2 separate regions of the Homo sapiens genome follow, and region 1 is linked to region 2. Evidence: fine-mapped expression QTL. A gene starts in region 2. The other region holds a variant in brackets. All regions are shown on one strand. Distances are between the middles of the regions.

Region 1 (5,379 bases), 22 kb before region 2:
GTCTGAGATAGACTGGCAATGCTGTAGCTTGATGGGGGGGAGGGGCGTCTGCCATTGCTGAGGCTTGAGTAGCTCACAGTGTAAAGAAAGAGGCTGGGAAGCATGAACTAGGTGGAACCCACTGCAGCTTAGCAAGGCCTACTGCCTCTATAGCTTCCACCTCTGAGGGAAGGACACAGTAGAACAAAAGGCAGCAGACAGCTTCTGCAGACTTAAATGTCCCTGTCTGACAGCTCTGAAGAGAGCAGTGGTTCTCTCAGCACGGCATTCCAGATCCGAGAACAGACAGACTGCCTCTTCTAGCAGGTCCATGACCCCCATGTAGCCTGACTGGAAAACACCTCCCAGTAGGGGCTGACAGACACCTTAAACAGGTGGGTGCCCCTCTGGGACAAAGCTTCCAGAAGAAGGATCAGGTGGCAATACTTGCTGCTCTGCAGCCTCCACTATTGATACCCAGCCAAACAGGGTCTGGAGTGGATATCCAGCAAACTCCAACAGACCTGCAGCTGAGGGGTCTGACTGTTAGAAGGAAAACTAACAAACAGAAAGGAAGAGCATCAACATCAAAAAAAAGGACGTCCACACCAAAACCCCATCCATAGGTCACAGTCATCAACATCAAAGACCAAAGGTAGATAAAATCACAAAGATGGGGAGAAACCAGAGCAGAAAAGCTGAAAATTCCAAAAAAGAGTGCCTCTTCTCCTCCAAAGGATCGCAGCTCCTCACCAGCAAGGGAACAAAACTGGACGGAGAATGACTTTGAGGAGTTGACAGAAGCAGGCGTCAGACCTTCGGTAATAACAAACTTCTCCGCGCTAAAGGAGCATGTTCTAACCCATTGCAAGGAAGCTAAAAGCCTTGAAAAAAGGTTAGACGAATTGCTAACTAGAATAAACAGTGTAGAGAAGACATTAAATGACCTGATGGAGCTCAAAACCACAGCACGAGAACTTTGTGACACATGCATAAGATTCAACAGCTGATTCAATCAAGTGGAAGAAAGGGTATCAGTGATTGAAGATCAAACTAATGAAATAAAGTGAGAAGACAAGATTAGAGAAAAAAGAGTGAAAAGAAATGAACGAAGCCTCCAAGAAATATGGCACTATATGCAAAGACCAAATCTACATTTGTTTGGTGCACCTGAAAGTGACAGGGAGAATGGAACCAAGTTAGAAAACACTCTTGAGGATATTATTCAGGAGAACTTCCCCAACCTAGCAAGGCGGGAAAACATTCAAATTCAGGAAATACAGAGAACACCACAAAGATACTCCTCGAGAAGGGCAACCCCAAGACACATAATTGCCAGATTCACCAAGGTTGAAATGAAGGAAAAAATGTTAAGGGCAGCCAGAGAGAAAGGTTCAGTTACCCACAAAGGGAAGACCATCAGACTAACAGCGGATCTCTCGGCAGAAAACCTGCAGGCCAGAAGAGAGTGGGGGCCAATATTCGACATTCTTAAAGAAAAGAATTTTCAACCCAGAAACTCATATTCAGCCAAACTAAGCTTCATAAGTGAAGGAGAAATAAAATCCTTTAGAGACAAACAAATGCTGAGAGATTTTGTCACCACCAGGCCTGCCTTACAAGGCTCCTGAAGGAAGCACTAAACATGGAAAGGAACAACCACTGCAAAACCAGCCACGGCAAAAACATGCCAAATGGTAAAGACCATCGACGCTATGAAGAAACTGCATCAATTAATGGGCAAAATAATCAGCTAACATCATAATGACAGGATCAAATTCAAACATAATAATAACCTTAAATGTAAATGGCCTAAATGCCCCAATTAAAAGACACAGACTGGCAAATTGGATAAAGAATCAAGACCCATCAGTGTGCTGTATTCAGGATACCCATCTCACGTGCAAAGACACACACAGGCTCAAAATAAAGGGATGGAGGAAGATCTACCAAGCAAATAGTAAGCAAAAAAAAAGCAGGGAATGCAATCTCCTAGTCTCTGATAAAACAGACTTTAAACCAACAAAAATCAAAAAAGACAAAGAAGGCCACTACATAATGGTAAGGGATCAGTTCGCCAAGAAGAGCTAACTATCTTAAATAAATATGCACCTAATACAGGAGCACCCAGATTCATAAAGCAAGTCCTTAGAGACCTACAAAACAGACTTAGATTCCCACACAATAATAATGGGA[C/G]ATTTTAATACCCCACTGTCAATATTAGACAGATCAGTGAGACAGAAGATTAACAAGGATATCCAGGACTTGAACTCAGCTCTGCACCAAGCAGACCTAATAGACATCTACAGAACTCTACACTCCAAATCAGCAGAATATACATTCTTCTCAGCACCACATCACACTTATTCTAAAATTGACCACATAATTGGAAGTAAAACACTCCTCAGCAAATGTAAAAGAACAGAAATCACAACAAACTGTCTCTCAGACCACAGTGCAAACAAATTAGAACTCAGGATTAAGAAACTCACTCAAAACTGCACAACTACATGGAAACTGAACAACCTGCTCCTGAATGACTACTGGGTAAATAACGAAATGAAGGCAGAAATAAAAATCTTCTTTGAAACCAATGAAAACAAAGACACAATGTACCAGAATCTCTGGGACACATTTAAAACAGTGTGTAGAGGGAAATTTATAGCACTAAATGCCCACAAGAGAAAGCAGGAAATATCTTAAGTCGACACCCTAACATCACAATTAAAAGAACTAGAGAAGCAAGAGCAAACAAATTCAAAAGCTAGCAGAAGACAAGAAATAACTAAGATCAGAGCAGAACTGAAGAAGATAGAGACACAAAAAAACTTTCAAAAAAATCAATGAAGGCCGGGCGCGGTGGCTCATGCCTGTAATCCCAGCACTTTGGGAGGCCGAGGCAGGCGGAACACGAGGTCAGGAGATTGAGACCATCCCGGCTAAAACGGTGAAACCCCGTCTCTACTAAAAATACAAAAAATTAGCCGGGCGTAGTGGCGGGCGCCTGTAGTCCCAGCTACTTGGGAGGCTGAGGCAGGAGAATGGCGTGAACCCGGGAGGCGGAGCTTGCAGTGAGCCGAGATCCCGCCACTGCACTCCAGCCTGGGCGACAGAGCGAGACTCCGTCTCAAAAAAAAAAAAAAAAAAAAAAAATCAATGAATCCAAGAGCTGTTTTTTTGAAAAGATCAACAAAAAAGATAGACTACTAGGAAAACTAATAAAAAAGAAAAGAGAGAAGAATCAAATAGATGCAATAAAAAATGATAAAGGGGATATCACCACCGATCCCACAGAAATACAAACTACCATCAGAGAATATTATAAACACTTCTATGCAAATAAACTAGAAAATCTAGAAGAAATGGATAAATTCCTAGACACATACATCTTCCCAAGACTAAACCAGGAAGAAGTTGAATCTCTGAATAGACCAATAACAGGTTCTGAAATTGAGGCAATAATTAATAGGCTAGCAACCAAAAAAAGTCCAGGACCAGATGGATTCACAGCCGAATTCTACTAGAGGTACAGAGGAGCTGGTACCATTCCTTCTGAAACTATTTCAATCAAAAGAAAAAGAGGGAACCCTCCCTAACTCATTTTATGAGGCTAGCATCATCCTGATACCAAAGCCTGGTAGAGACACAACAAAAAAATAGAATTTTAGGCCAATATCCCTGATGAACATCAATGTGAAAATCCTCAGTAAAATACTGGCAAACCGAATGCAGCAGCACATTAAAAAGCTTACCCACCATGATCAAGTAGGCTTCATCCCTGGGATGCAAGGCTGGTTCAACATACACAAATCAATATTCGTAATCCATCACATAAACAGAACCAACAACAAAAACCACATGATTATCTCAATAGATGCAGAAAAGGCCTGTGACAAAATTCAACAGCCCTTCATGCTAAAAACTCTCAATAAACTAGGTATTGATGGAACATATCTCAAAATAATAAGAGCTATTTCTGACAAACCTGCAGCCAATATCGTACTGAATGGGCCAAAACTGGAAGCATTCCCTTTGAAAACTGGCACAAGACAAAGATGCCCTCCCTCACCACTCCTATTCAACACAGTTTTGGAAGTTCTGGCTAGGGCAATCAGGCAAGAGAAAGAAATAAAGGGTATTCAATTAAGAAAAGAGGAACTCAAATTGTTTCTGTTTGCAGACAATGTAATTGTATATTTAGAAAACCCCATCCTCTCAGCCCAAAATCTCCTTAAGCTGATAAGCAACTTCAGCAAAGTCTCAGGATACAAAATCAATGTGCAAAAATCACAAGCATTCCTATACATCAATAACAGACAAACAGAGAGCCAAATCATGAGTGAACTCCCATTCACAATTGCTTCAAAGAGAATAAAATACCTAGGAATTCAACTTACAAGGGATGTGAAGGGCCTCTTCAAGGAAAACTACAAACCACTGCTCAACAAAATAAAAGAGGGCACAAACAAATGGAAGAATGTTCCATGCTCATGGATAGGAAAAATCAATATCATGAAAATGGCTATACTGCCCAAGGTAATTTATAGATTCAATACTATCCCCATCAAACTACCACTGACTTTCTTCAAAGAATTGGGAAAAAAATACTTTAAATTTCATATGGAACCAAAAAAGAGCCCACATAGCCAAGACAATCCTAAGCAAAAAGAACAAAGCTGGAGGCATCACGCTATCTGACTTCAAACTATACTATAAGGCTACAGTAACCAAAACAGCATGGTACTTGTACCAAAACAGACATGCAGACCAATGGAACAGAACAGAGACCTCAGAAATAACACCACACATCTACAACCATCTGATCTTTGACAAACCGGACAAAAACAAGCAATGGGGAAAGGATTCCCTATTTAACAAATGGTGCTGGGAAAACTGGCTAGCCATATGTAGAAAGCTGAAACTGGATCCTTTCCTTACACCATGTACGAAAAATAACTGAAGATGGATTAAATACTTAAATGTAAGACCTAACACCATAAAAACCCTAGAAGAAAACCTAGGCAATACCATTCAGGACATAGGCATGGGCAAAGACTTCATGACTAAAACACTAAAAGCAATGCAGCAAAAGCCAAAATTGACAAATGAGATCTAATTAAACTAAAGAGCTTCTGCACAGCAAAAGAAACTATCATCAGAGTGAACAGGCAAACTACAGAATGGGAGAAAATCTTTGCAATCTACCCATCTGACAAAGGACTAATATCCAGAGTCGACAAAGAACTTAAACAAATTTACAAGAAAACAACAAATCACCTCATGTAAAAGTAGACAAAGGATATGAACAGATACATCTCAAAAGAAGACATTTATGCAGCCAACAGACATATGAAAAAATGCTCATCATCACTGGTCATCAGAGAAATGCAAATCCAAACC
Region 2 (5,379 bases):
CGCTTTTTTTTTTCTGAGCATAGACAGGGGACTTTATTGGTGGTACACGACAAGGTGGGGTTCCCTAGGCCCCTCCCTCTTCAGGGGGTCTGCATGGAAACTGCATGGAGGGGAGAATCTCAGTGTGGTGGGGGACTGAGTGTGGCAGGGACTCCCCAGCAGCTGAGGGCCTCTCTTTTCCTCTCATGCTCTCGCGGGGCTGGTGGCCCAGAGGTCTTACTCCTTGGAGGCTATGTGAGCCATGAGGTTCACCATCCTGTTGCTGTACCCAAATTCATTATCATATGAGAAAATGAGCTTAACAAAGTGGTCACTGAGGGCAATGCCAGTCCCAGGATTGAAGGTGGAAGAGTGGGTGTCAATGGTTAAGCTGGAGGAGGCAACCTGGTTCTCAGTGTTGCACAGGATGCCCTTATGGGGGCCTTCTGATGCTGCTTCACCACCTGCTTGATGTTATCATATTTGGCATGCTTTTCCTGAGGGCAGGTCAGGTTCATGACCAACATGTTCGTGGTGGGGACCTGGAATGCCATGCTAGTGATCTTCCCATGCAGCTCATTGATATACTTGCCCACAGCCTTGAGAGTGCCAGTAGATGCAAGGATGATGTTCCTTTGAGCCCTGCAGCTGTCATGCCACAGTTTCACAGAGGGGCCGTCCACAGTCTTCTGGGTGGCAATCATAGCATTTACTGTGGTCATGAGTCCTTCCACTAAATCGGAGTTGTCATGGATGATCTTGGCCAGAGATGCTAAGCAGTTGGTGGTACAAGAAACACTGTTGATGATCTTGAGGCTGTTGTTATATTTCTCATGGTTCATACCCATCACAAACATGGGGCTGTCAGCAGAGGGGTTAGAGATGATGATCCATTTAACTGGCCCCTACAAATGAGCCACACACTTCTCCATGGTAGTGAAGACGACACTGGAGTCTATGATGTACTTGGTGCCAGCATTGTCCTATTTGATTTTGGTGGGATTTAGCTTTTGGAAGATCGTGGTGGGATTTCCATTGATGACAAGCTTCCTGTTCTCAGCCTTTACGGTGCCATGGAATTCACCACGGGTGGAATCATACTGGAATACATAGACCATGTAGTATGGAATTTGTAGACTATGAAGGGGTCATTGATGGTGACAATATCCACTTTACCAGTTATAAGTAGCCTTGGTAACCAGGCAACCAATGGGGCCAAATCCATTGACTCTGGCCTTCACCCTTACCATGGTGTCTCAGGGATGCGGCTGGCGCTGCACAAGAAGATGCGGCTATCTGTCGAATGGGAGGAGCAGAAAGCTACAGCATATTATTTAACCCATAGTTATCATATTGAGAAATTCTTCACACACTCTGATGTCAATAGGTGGTGACTCGGGTGGGCACCACTTGACATAGCAGGCTGACATTCCCTGAGCATGTGGACAATTCAGTTGTCTCAGTGTCACTTGTTTAAAAGACAATCTTTTTCCCTATTGAATTTGCTATTGTCAAAATCAATTGGCCATATGAATTTAGGCCATTAACCCACACATAGGCAAAACTTCCCTCAAAATAAAATAAAGGCCTAAATTTAAGGGCTAAACTATACACCTCTTAGAAGAAAACATAGATTATTATATTCATGATCTTGAATTAGGCAAAAACCCAACTTTTCCTGGTTAAAAAATAGTTGAAAAATGAAACAGGATCAAAACTAAAAATGTTGGCATTTAAAAGCCACCAATAAGAAAATGAAGAGATAAACCAGAGACTGAGAAAAAAAATTCAAATCATATATTTAATACAGGACTCATATCCAGAATATGAAATACACTTACAACTACGCAACAAAAAGATAAATAACCCAATTTTAAAATAGGCAAAATATTTGAATAACCATTTCATCAAAAAGGTGTAGGAATAGACAATAAAATACATGAAAAGATGGTCAGCATCATCAGTCAGCAGGGACATGCAAATCAAAACTACAGTGAGACACCACTTCTTACCCACTAGAATGCTATAATAAAAAAGGACAGTAACACCTGGGGGAAGTGAAATAATGACGTGGAAAAACTAAAACACTCACGCATTGTTGATGGGACATGCAGTCACGTTGGAAACCAGTTTGGCAGTATCTTAAAATGTTGAAGATATATTTACCATATGACCTAGCACTATCACTTCTAGCTATCTACCCAGAAGAAAAAAACCTATGTCCACACAACACATGAATGTGAATATTCATAGCAACTTTATCCATAATTGTCCATAAAGTAGAAACACTCAAATATGTATCAACTGATAAATGAATAAACTAATGGGAGCTATCCATACAATTTAATAGGATTTGTCCCCTAACAGGATTAAAATATTGATATGTGCTGCCACATACATGAACCATAAAAGTATATTAAAGTAAATGAAAGAAGACAGATACAAAAGACCACATATTGCATGATTTCATTTATATGGTCTCCAGAAAAGGCAAATCTGTAGAGTCAGAAAGTCAATTAGAGGTTGCCTGGAGCTGGGGACTGGGAAAAAGTGGTGGTGACTGATGAACATAGGGGATTTCTTAGGAATGATAGAAATGTTGCAAAACAGGATCATGGTGATGGTCACACAAGTCTAAAATTTTACTGAAAATAATTTAACTGCACACTTAAAACAAGCGAATGTTATGTCAATTATACCTCAGTAAAGCTGTTTAAAAACAAAAGAAATTTAGTAGTGTGGCCCCCATCAGTCTTGCCCTTTGTTTAATTTCTCACTTTCTTTAGGGCTTTTATTTATCGGTTCCACTCAGAGACTCCAAGAGACACTGGCTGAAATCTATCAGCCTCCAGAACTCTCAACAGCATAGGGAATGTCTGGCCCCATCCGAAAGGTGATGGGATCTGTAAGGTGCACTCTAGCATGTGCTATAGCAGGCAAAGGTGTGTGATGCACCTGGGTGGTTCAGATAGTGCTCCACATGTCTCAGCAAGACCCAGGGCCTGTAGCTATCGGAGAACAAGCTGCTACATCTTGCAGCACAGGGCCAACCTTTTCTAGGCAAGTGGGTTTGAAGCATTGGTAGTCAGGTCCCAAGTAGCAGTTGAATGTTTTCAACATGGGAGGAGGGCAAGACCTAGAGTGGGGTTTCAAAGCAAATCATTTGTAGAATATTACTTCCAACAACTGCAGAAAGCATTCGTTTCAAGTGTTTATGGGATGTTCACCAACACAGACCTTTTGCTGCACCATAAAACAAGTCTCAATATATACACAAGGATCAAAATCATACAGAGTATATGCTATGGCCACAGTAGTATTTAATTAGAAATTCAAAACAATAAGATATCTAGAAGATTCCCAATTTCAGAAAACAAGCTACATACTCTGTTGGTATCGGTCACTTGGGTCAAAGACGAACTCACAAGAAAAAATTCAAAACATCATTAACTGAGTGATGATAACCCGATGCATCAAAATGTTGGCTGCAGCTGACACAGTGCTTAGAGAGAAACTTACAACTTTAAATGCCTGTAGTGGAAATGAGCAAAGGACTAAAGTCAATTATATATGCTTTTATAATAAGAACCCTGAAAAAAAGGAGTAAAACAACCCCCAAGTTAATAAACATAAGCTGATAATAAAAACAAAGAAAATCATGAAATAGAAAAATGAACAAACAATAGAGACAATCAATGGTCAATCCTTCTGTACTCCATGAACAAAACTTCAGTTCAGAATGATTTTATATTTAAATATATATCCAGAACCACAGAGATCTTAGAAGAATAAATTAAGAAAATATAGGAATAAAATGAAAATTCTGTGGGAATAAAAATCAGAAAGTAGCTGCCTACCAGGGTAAATTGGGGGCAGGGGAGGGAATTAACTAAGAACAGGCAGAAAAGAACTTTCTGCAGTGAAGGAAATGACCAATACATTTTTTGGGTGCTACTTACATGGGCATACATAACTGTCAAGGTTCATCAAACTAAACACGAGCTCTGGGCATTTTAGTGAATATAAATTACACCTGATTACACCTGGATTTTTTTTTTTTTTCTTTTTTGAGACGGAGTCTCACTGTGTCGCCCAGGCTGGAGTGCAGTGGCGCAATCTCAGCTCACTGCAAGCTCCGCCTCCAGGGTTCACGCCATTCTCCTGCCTCAGCCTCCTGAGTAGCTGGGACTACAGGCGCCCACCACCAGGCCCAGCTAAGTTTTTGTATTTTTAGTAGAGATGGGGTTTCACCGTGTTAGCCAGGGTGGTGTTGATCTCCTGAATTCATGATCTGCCTGCCTCGGCCTCCCAAAGTGCTGGGATTACAGGCATGAGCCACTGCGCCTGGCCTCGATTTTTTTAAGTAGAGGAAAGTATCTTGGAGAGCTTATGGTGGTGAAATTTGGGCAGTTCTCAGGTATACGCTCAAGGAGCATTCACAGCATCTTCAGAAATTTGCTGAGAATGGTTTTGTACCCAAAAATATGGGAAAAGTTCAAACATCTATGATAAGAGTCATTGGAGCATACAACCACAAATCCCCACTCCTGTGGTACAGGCCATATCATTAAATGGTTAACACTAGATAGCTTTCCTTCAATGGTGTTCTTCATCTAGGAACCCAGAGCTCTCTGGGGGAAAATTGCAATTGAGGTTTTGGATATATTGAATAGGTAAGTAAGTCACCTCCGTAAAACTTAGTGATTGGAGCTGTCACCATTGCAAATTTCTAAACTTTGCAAGACAGCAGCAACATTTCAAATGACACTCAGAGAGAGGAGATAACGAGCTAATGTGGATTTCCTTCCAAACATATTTACTGCACAAAAGCAAAGTTCACATTACACTTGGAGATTTCTCTCAGCCTAGTTTAAGATCACAGATTGCGGATCCCCGATATCTGGTATCAACTGACCAGTGTCCTGTTAAGGCTAAACCTAAGACTCTTTACTGCATTGCTGCCTTAGAATTGGACTTCTCTTCCTGTTCCTGGGAAGAATTAGAGATATAGACTAAAGGTCACTATTCTTCTGAGAAAAGGGATGCTGGAGGAGGCAGGAGAAATGAGTATGTGGCAGGAGTTCAAGGGGATAAGGGGCAAGTCAGAAGCCACGGAGCATAAAGGCCCAGGGCTCCCTTAGGGGATGAAGTGACAAGCACCCTGACTCTTTTGTCCAGCTTTAACAATCTAACAGTAAGAGCTTCTTCATTTTCTTTCAGCTACTCCTGGCAATGGTGGAGACATGGAATTTTTGCAAAAAAAATGGGGTAGAGGAAAATAAGACATCTGTGTGAGTATATAACCATTTGATCTCTTTTTTTAGCCCTCTCCAGGGTCACCCTAGAATCAGATCTGCTCCCCAGCATCTTCTGTTTCCTGGAGTGTGTTGTCTGCTACTT

The links. PIP is the estimated chance that this variant, and not a neighbour inherited with it, causes the effect. A credible set is the group of variants that fine-mapping cannot tell apart.
Region 1: its variant is the best candidate, but not a certain one, in a credible set for the expression of LINC00622 in whole blood (TOPMed, PIP 0.61).

Annotation. Positions count from the first base shown.
Region 1 is chr1:119,574,255-119,579,633 of GRCh38, forward strand. No RefSeq gene overlaps it. Among named protein-coding and RNA genes, the nearest start is that of LINC00622, 22 kb to the right of the region's middle. The variant C/G (reference allele first, on the strand shown) is at 2,176.
Region 2 is chr1:119,595,951-119,601,329 of GRCh38, forward strand. It overlaps LINC00622 (long intergenic non-protein coding RNA 622), which reads right to left and starts at 3,341. Exons shown (of 1, transcript NR_036540.1): 1 at 1,752-3,341. It also overlaps the pseudogene GAPDHP33 and the pseudogene HSD3BP5.